Regions from separate parts of the Homo sapiens genome. Here region 2 is reported to be linked to region 1. Evidence: microRNA targets listed by miRTarBase, many of them from high-throughput screens and not tested one by one. Region 1 holds a microRNA gene; the other region holds the end of a gene's coding sequence.
What was found. Region 1 holds the annotated microRNA hsa-miR-4254 (GCCUGGAGCUACUCCACCAUCUC, at 1,927-1,949, shown strand). A microRNA usually pairs through its seed, bases 2 to 8, with sites in the 3' UTR of a target mRNA and lowers its output. Matches are read on the target gene's strand: a 7mer-m8 pairs with bases 2 to 8, a 7mer-A1 pairs with bases 2 to 7 and ends in A, and an 8mer does both.

Region 2: the mRNA of RAB6B is a reported target of hsa-miR-4254. Seed matches in the 3' UTR shown: 7mer-m8 at 2,113-2,119.

The regions. Positions count from the first base shown.
Region 1 is chr1:31,756,262-31,760,618 of GRCh38, reverse strand. MIR4254 (microRNA 4254) reads left to right here and starts at 1,884; the gene lies at 1,884-1,959. ADGRB2 (adhesion G protein-coupled receptor B2) reads left to right here. Exons shown (of 33, transcript NM_001364857.2): 2 at 3,108-3,237; 3 at 3,338-3,418; 4 at 3,804-4,357. The coding sequence starts at 3,398. RefSeq lists enhancers at 3,424-4,028, 4,029-4,357.
Region 2 is chr3:133,825,022-133,829,406 of GRCh38, reverse strand. RAB6B (RAB6B, member RAS oncogene family) reads left to right here. Exons shown (of 8, transcript NM_016577.4): 8 at 555-4,385. The coding sequence ends at 619. It also overlaps a transcript of SRPRB not described here. Among named protein-coding and RNA genes, the nearest start is that of SRPRB, 21 kb to the right of the region's middle.

The DNA of each region.
Region 1 (4,357 bases):
GCGCCCCTTCCCCCGGCCCGCCCCTCCCCCGCCACCCAGCGTGAATGGGAGTCATCCTGGGAATCCCGGACCGGCCCTGGGCCTGAGACACCCCTCTCCCGCTGCTCTGCCCCTTACCCCACAGTCTTGCCTTGGCCCTTTCAGCTGCTGAAAGCTTTGAATTCCTTTATTGGTGCAGAAGGGAAGCTGGGGAGCCCTGAGGGGTGGAAAGAAAGGGGACTTGAGTGTGTTTGGGCAGAGTGAGATTCTTGGGTTTGCTGGGGTCAGGGGCATGTGGTGAAGGCAGCCCCCAGCCCCCTAGAGGAGGGGCCTTGGTAGGGTTAAAAGTGAGAGGGAGACTACTTCAGCCAGCTCCGCACCCATCTCTGAGGCAGGAGGCCTTTTGATCCTCCTCTCTATCAGCCACCTCTGGCCCAGGAAGTTCTTCCTCAGAGCTGACTTTAGTACCTCTCCTATCTAACTCTTGTGCAGGGATGGGTCTGTGGTCTTCCTGGGTTTGGAGGTAGCCAGCCACTTATGGTTCAACCCAAAGAGCCTTCCCAGAGGCAGTGCCCTGTACCTCAGCAGGCAAGAGGGCAGCGTTTATGAGGTCCTGAAAAGACAGAGAGGAGACAGGGCTGTGAGCTAGGCTCTGTGCTGGGAACTTGTTGGGAGGCTGATGAGGTGTCTGCCATCCCCAGGGCAAGGCTCATGGTCTGCATTGCACAGAGAGGGAAACAGGCTCAGGGGGGTTAATCATGACTAAGAGCCACTTGGGCTGCCTGTGAGGCAAGGATCATCCTTCTAGGTCCCCTTCCCGGGTGGCTCAGGGAGAGGCCTCTGGGTCATCAGTGCCCCCAGGAGGACAGGCCTGGCTATACACAGGCAGGAGGGTCTTCAATGAACCAGTGGCTGTCTGTGACCCAGCTTGGAATTGGGTCTTTGCCTTATTTTGAATGGTGGGAAGTAATATAAAAAGGCGCCCCAAAAGGTCTTATGTCATAGCCGGCACAGTGAGGGTTACGCATGTCCAGGACGAAATCCCAGAATGAGCGTGAAGGTGTCTGAAGGAGACTGAGGGGAGGAGGGGGGTTGGATTGGGTTAAAAGTGACTCCATTCTGGAGAAGCCAGCCTGTGGCTCTGAAGGATGTGGACCTTGTGCTTCTTGATGGGGCGGGGCTGTGGAGTAGGGAGCAGCAGCCTAGGAGCAGGGTAGGGGAGGGAGATCCAGCTTCAGACATGCAAAGGAAGACCCCGCAGAGGATCCTGCCTGACACTTAGCTGTCATATGCTGAGCCTCAGAGGGCCAGATACTCATGTGTGTTCTCAGTCGAGAATGCGTGTGCACCTCTGTGCATGTGTACAAGTGTAAGCCTCTACACCCCTGTGTGTGCGTGTTAACTCCTGAGTGTGTGTGACAGCATGAATCTGTGGGTTTCACCTGTGTGCATGTCCGTGTACATATGTATCCATTCATATGCAGAACTCCTGTGAACATCTGTGCCCTCATGCTTTGGTGTGTGTGTCCTCAGGGCACAAGGGTGTTCAAACCCATGTGTGTTGGTGTGTATGTGAGGGGAGGTTCCCTGAGCTGCTGTAAGTGGGGGAGGGGAGGCCGGTTATAATGAGCCCCTACCTCCCCTCCACTGAGCCGCAGCCATGGCCTGAATTTTGCGGCTTAAAAATAATTGGGGGCAGCAGGGGGATTGGATGTCACTCATCATCAGCCGCTGGCTTGGCTAGTGCCGCAGCAGGTGGGGCGAGCTGAGCAGTGTGGGACAGGCATGATGTAGGGTGGGAAAGACCAGGGGTCTGATCCCTTTTTCAGCTCTGAGGAGGAGGGTGGGTGGTTGGGGGGAGAGGCACAGCCTGTCTGGCTTCCGCCGAATAACTCCATGTGGGTCTTGGGAGGAGGGTGGGGTGGCTCCTCTGCAGTGAGTAGGTCTGCCTGGAGCTACTCCACCATCTCCCCCAGCCCCTGTATGGCTGGGAGGGGAAGATGCTTGCTTGGGCCTGGCTTGGAGGTGCAGCATGAAGGGATGTGGGATCTGGAGCAGTGGGGAGCTCCATGGATGCTGCACAGGGACTGGAAAGTTGGGGTTCTAAATTCTGTCCCCCCTCTGCCTGCTGTTTAGACTCCTGAAGACCCAAGGGGAAGTCTGTTCCCTGGGAGCAACTGTGTCTTGGGAGAATCTAGTCATACCTGTGAATTGTCCTGTGTTTCTGATTCAGTCCCCAGAGCTAATAGCTGGTCCATCTGGCCTGAAGCCTGAGCAGCAAGCCTAGGGAAGGAGCAGAGGCTACTGGTGGAGGGAGACAGGCCTGGGCTGGGCCTCAGATCCTGGGCTTGCGTCCTCTGTGGCCACCTTTGTGTGATCTGGAGCGGGTTGTCTCCCTTTTCCTAGCCCCATCTTTTCTCCTCTGATGAGGACCAGCTGGGCTCTAGGGGGCCCATGCAGTGCTGTGAGCTATCCTGTGGCATGCAGGAGGGAGGCCGCTTGGATTACTTGGGGGGTAGGATTGGAAGTGGGGCTGATTCAGACCACGCGCTAGGTTCCATTTTCTGGGCAGTTGGGTAGAGGTTGCGCAGGCTGTGGGCAGTGACACAGCCCTGGCCTGGTGGGTGGGAGGGCACCTGCAGCTCCCCCCATCCTCAGCCCTTACCCACTCTGGCCTGACTGCTCTGTGTGTCTGTATGGGTCGGGCTTGGGTCCTAGGTGCCCACCCACACCTGGAGTACATTCACACCTGTTGGGAGCTCAGCTTAGGGCAGCACTTTAAGGGAAGGTAGAAAGCAACAAGCTTGGGTCCCCACTCTTAGGAACTGGAAGACCCATAAGCTGAATGAACTAGCCTTGGGGAAACAGTATAGGAGAGAGGTCACGACTGGCTGGTGGCTTCACAGGTGGGTAGTGGGGGGTGGGGTAGCAGGCCCTGAACCAGGCCTTGGAAGATAATCCCATGGAGCTGGAGGGGAAGAGGGAAGTAAGAGGGGGAATTTCTGCACCCATTTTACAGATGAGAAAACTGAGACTCATGAGGGTCACCCACCAGCAGGTGGCTGGCTGGGTTGGGGCTCAAGCCCAATGTCCCCTTACTCGGTGCCTCTCCCCCTTATTCCAACCAGGAAATCCACAGCAGTGATACATGTGACGTCCACACTGACAGTGCCCTCCTGTGGGCATGGCTCAGGTTGTGCGCAGTTCCTGGCACACTGGCTGTAACTCCGCCCCTTTCTCTCCCTCTCAGTAAAGCAAGTGAGTGAGAATGACATTGTTCCAGGAATAACCTCAAATTGCTCTAATTTATAAAAAAGCAAATCATAGTCAAACATCACCACTTTGACAATTACCACAGGATTACGCGGTGACATGCCTCACAGCTGATCACGACACACGGGGATGGAGAGCAAGAGTTATGGAGAATACAGGTTGGATGGTGAGGCTGGGGCTGGATCTGAATGCAAGGCGAATATGCTTGTAGTTGATGGGCTGACTCTGAGGAAACAGAACGATGGCAACAACAACTACTGTTTCTTCAGGGCTCACAAGATTCCAGGCACTCTCGCGAGTCCTTTCCCTTACTTATTTCACCCTTGTAGGAAACTTGTGCGATAGGTCCTATCATTGGTCCATTTTACAGGTAAGGAAACTGAGGCTCAGAGAGGTCAAGTCCCTTGTCTAAGTTCACACAGGTGGACCCAGGTGACACTTCAAAGACCAGGGTCTTAACTTATGAGGCCCACTCCCGCAGCTCACCATAGAAGGTTCAGAGCCCATGCTGGCTGTGCTGGGGGCCCGCTGACCACTGTCTCTCTCCACAGGGCAAGGGACATAGGATGACCCCAGCCTGTCCCCTCTTACTGTCTGTGATTCTGTCCCTGCGCCTGGCCACCGCCTTCGACCCCGCCCCCAGTGCCTGCTCTGCCCTGGCCTCGGGTGTGCTCTACGGGGCCTTCTCGCTGCAGGACCTCTTTCCTACCATCGCCTCGGGCTGCTCCTGGACCCTGGAGAACCCTGACCCCACCAAGTACTCCCTCTACCTGCGCTTCAACCGCCAGGAGCAGGTGTGCGCACACTTTGCCCCCCGCCTGCTGCCCCTGGACCACTACCTGGTCAACTTTACCTGCCTGCGGCCTAGCCCCGAGGAGGCGGTGGCCCAGGCGGAGTCAGAGGTGGGGCGGCCAGAAGAGGAGGAGGCAGAGGCGGCAGCGGGGTTGGAGCTGTGCAGCGGCTCAGGCCCCTTTACCTTCCTGCACTTCGACAAGAACTTCGTGCAGCTGTGCCTGTCGGCTGAGCCCTCCGAGGCCCCGCGCCTGCTGGCGCCCGCTGCCCTAGCCTTCCGCTTTGTCGAGGTCTTGCTCATCAACAACAACAA
Region 2 (4,385 bases), not on the chromosome of region 1:
CCAGTGGAAAGGGCTGGCGAGGGGGCTGTGCTTAGGCCCCATGGATGTGGCTTCTTACAGTAACCATCCTCAGGATCTAAGTGATGTGTTCTGACTAAAGCTTGAAGGGTTTGCTCCTGCTGCCAATTAGGCAAGGCCCACATACCCCTGTGCTTTGAGATGTGAACCCAGCAGGCTCTTCATCTCCATTGCACTTTGAGTGGGGCTGACAGGTAACTGGGCTGAGGCCAGGGCTGGGAGCTGGCATTTGAGCACTGGTCGAGGGAAGGCTTCTGGGAAAGGGACTCCCTGGCCTTGGTATAGATGGTGATCCCACGGCCCAGGCAAGACAGGCTTTGCTTGGGTGGACAGGCGCTGGGGGAAGTGGACGGGTGAAGGGAAGAGGAGGCAAGGTGGAGTTGGTATTGCATCCTTCCTAGCCCAGCCAAACCAAGAGCCAAGTCCCTAGGTGTTTGCAGAGAAACAGAGCAGTAGCCAAAGGGTACAGTGCACAGGGCTAAGTGGGGTGGCAGCTTGTCCAGGAGAGTCATCTTCCTTAGCCCGTCCCCCTGCAGTGATCGACATCAAGCTGGACAAACCCCAGGAGCCCCCGGCCAGCGAGGGCGGCTGCTCCTGCTAATGCAGAGCCGACCTGTGGCTTCCCATGACACTCCTTGCTTGTTGTGTTGCTTCCTATTGGCTAGCTTCCTAAGGGGGGAGGGAACCGAGTTATCAAGATGGGAGGATTTTTCTTTTCTCTCTGTCTTTAGGAGTAGGGTGGGATGGGGAGGGAGGCTGGGCATCAGGGATCACATCACTCTTAACGGCTGTTACTTAAACAACTATTTTTTGGTTTGGTTGTAATATATTGTACTTTATTAAGATTGCCAAAAACTGTTAAAATTTAAAAAAAATTTAAATCATGTGTATACAATTTTTTGCCAGATAAAAATGTAGTCATTTTTATTTGAAAGATGTGCTTTTTGTTTTTGTATATTTGTAAACTTATAGAGAACCTTTTCCACACACCTCCTCCTTCCTGTTCTCTTTGAACCATTCATCACCTCTGCCTTCCTCCTATCCCCAGCCCAATAAATTAAAACAATTAACTGAGCAAATTAATTAGGCTTCAGTCTGGGGCCATCTGGCCCCACTCTCTAGGCCCTACTCCAGTTAAATCAAACATTGGTTGAACACATCAGCCTCTGAAAAGGTAGCTCTGACTCTTGTCTTTCCATGGCCAGAGTGGGTCGTCAACCTCGTGTGGAGCTGAGACCAAGGTCTGTGGGCTCTAGGCAGCCCGGCAGCAGCCCCCAGAGGAACTGCTCCCACCTCTCCTTCTCTTTCCCTGAAAAGCCTTGAAGGGGGTTGAGGGTACAGGCAACCTTGTGTTCTCTGTGCCCTCAGGGACTGGCAGAGCAAGAGGCCATCAGAAGGACGAGGTGCTGTTGGCAATTGCAGCTGCGTGGTGCGTGGTTTATAGACTGGGGTGCCATGTGTACTTCTGAAAATATTTTAACCAGCCCACCCAGCAGTCAGTACACATGCCTGGGCCAAGTCTAAGAAACTCAGTGTGTGATGTTGGGCAGTGTGCCATCCTGAAGCCTTCCTCCTGGATGTCAGGGAAGCTGGACCACCTGGAGTTGATCCTCTGTGATGGGGAGGCGGGGGGGGGGGGGGGTGTTGTCTGCAGAACCACCACCTTGAAAGATCCATGTTCTTAGAGCCTCAGCTGCTAATATTGTTGAGTGCTTTCTGGAAAAGCTGATTTGTTGCTATGTTTTCACCCCAGTGGCATGGCGCAGTTGAAGTCTTTGTGGACATATCTTTGTGGCTACTGTGGCTGCGCTGTGGTCACCTGAGGATGTGGTTCAGGTGGGGTCTCCAGAAGGCTGCTTGCCCCCAGAGAGCCATCTCTTCCATTTTTGATTCATTCCTGAGAATGGCTTAGTCCTGAGAATCTGCAAAGTCTCTGAAGAGAACTCTCTCTTCCCACTAAGTGATATAACCTACTTGGCCAGCATTCCAAATAGACTCAGACTCACTGCCCTGAGCCTGCACAGAGCCAGGTGCAATGGGCAGTGAGTCTGGCCAAAATGTAAACCCCACCCTCCCTGCTGTCATTGGCTCTCCCTCCAGGCTGCTGCTGGGCATGTCATAGATGGGATGAATGACCATCTGGGGTATGGTGGGCTGAACTCCACAAGGTCGTTGGAATGAATTTTGAAACTTCTCAGAAATTAATCTGAAATGGCAGGCAGTAAGTGCAGCAGAATCTGGCAGGACTGATATTTGTGCAGTGGGCCTGCCACACACCCTCTGCCTAGGAGGCTGTATGCCAGAGCTCATCTCTAGCAAGGAATTTATCTTCAGGTGAAGAAGAGAGGAAGCAGGATCCCACTGAGCACCTCTTGCAGAAGGCAAGGACCAATGTTTGAACGTGTTTCAGATGTCATGTGTTTAGTTTTTATATGTGTGTACATAATTATATATAGAGATAGACTTGTGTATACACCTTCCACAAACACATCCTCACGGAGATACATGTGCTCAATGTATATTCTTGTTTCTCCTGCTCTCAAGTTGGAACTTGCATTGTGATAAGTTTTGGAAATTCAAAAGTACTGCAACGTGTTGAAATAAGAAATACTTAATATTGTCAAATAACTTGTGATTGTCTTGCCATCAATAAAATAATGCATAGTTGTGTTAAACTACAGGCAAACATAGCCCACGGGAATATCTCCACCATTTCTCTATGTACTTTATATGCACGGGTGTGCATGCCTGTGTGGGCCAGTGTCCCCCCACCATGGGCACACCCCCAAGTGGTGCTTGTTGGAAGAGTGCTTACTTACCTCGAGAGAATTTACAGGAGTCCACATGACAGTGTCCTGCCTGGTTGGCAGCGGGGGCCATCACCTGTGGCCTCTGAGACCGCCCCATTTACAGGAATCTGCACTGGGTCTCAGTGAATGAACGTATGGTAGATTTTTATTTTCTTGGCACTAAAGATTAGCTTTTTTAAAAAAACATCCCATAAAACAGTAGAAACTCAGTTCCCTTCTCAGGGGCACACACATCCAAGGCACCGTGGACTGTGTTTCCATCCTGGCCTAGAGGAGCAGTAAAAGATAGCATTTGGTTTGACATGGCCTTAGTGAGTCCTGCCTTTCCTAGCATGCACACAACATCCTCTCTTTGAGTTTGGGTTCTCCCCAGCCCCTTGGCCTCTGAGGCTGAGGGTGGCTTCCTCCCATCCTCCCATCTCAGTGGTTCCATGGCGCTCCCTTCGGCACGTGCGGTTTCCGCCCCTCCCTTCCTGGGGTGTGGAAAGGCAGCCAGACCTCTTTTTCAGAAGTTGTTGGTTCCCTGATTTTTGTCTTGAGCAGGCACCATCCCTGTCCCCTTGCTTGCAGGTAGAATTGGCACAGAGTTAAGGTTCCATAATAAACTGTTAGGTGCTCTTGAAGAAGATGTCATGGCATTGCCTCAGCACCCCAGCAAGAGCATTGCATCTTTGCTGAATCCAGATGGGTTAGCAGAGGGCAAATTGGAGGATTCCTTTGAGGAAATGTTCTCAATTGAGCAATTCAGTCCCTCTCCCCAAAGACTAGACGTGACCTGGCAGATTAGCAGGATCCTCTTGGCCTTCTTTTTTGGGGATGGTGGGAGTGAAGGGGGTGAATCTTAAAAGCTTATCAACAAAGCTCCTGTTCTGCAGGCATCAGGAAAGTTGAGTGTAAGATGGAAAAAGCAAACAGCCTATTTACAAGTGGAAACACATTGGTTCTGATCACTCCTAACTTGCTGGGTGATCATACATACATCAACATGAAGGTGTGACATCAGAATCATGAGCACCATGGCTGCAGTTGTGTGATCCAAGGCTAGTTGGCTTGGTAGCTGTTGGCAGCAGTTTCCCTTGGTCAGAGGCCTCCTTGCTATCTATCGCTGCTCTCTTCTTGTCATCCTTAAACATTCAGTCATGTTCCCAGGTCTGAGGGGAGCAATGGCCAGACCAGTTTCAGTATCTCTGGCAACAGAAACAAGGATTGAAATGGTGGTAGTTAAGAGTGCAGACACATCTGGGGTGCAACGTCTGCATCATCCTGGTGGCTAGCCAGTGCGGGGAGGCCCTGCCCTGGGATACCAGTTGTGACAATAAAGGGATGGCCCTCCTGGCTTCAGCATCCTGCAGGTAGAGCAGCCTCATTCCTTCACAAGATGGAAGGCAGGTGAGGATGTCAGGATGAGATGGGACCAGGTAGCCGAGGACAGTGAGGCATGTCTGAGCCACTTGAGGGGCAGCTGAACAGAAGGATGTCTGTGTGCATCAACCGAGCAGATTGTGCGCACACTCGTTTCCGAACTGCCTCTCCCCAAAGAATGTGAGGCATTGTCAC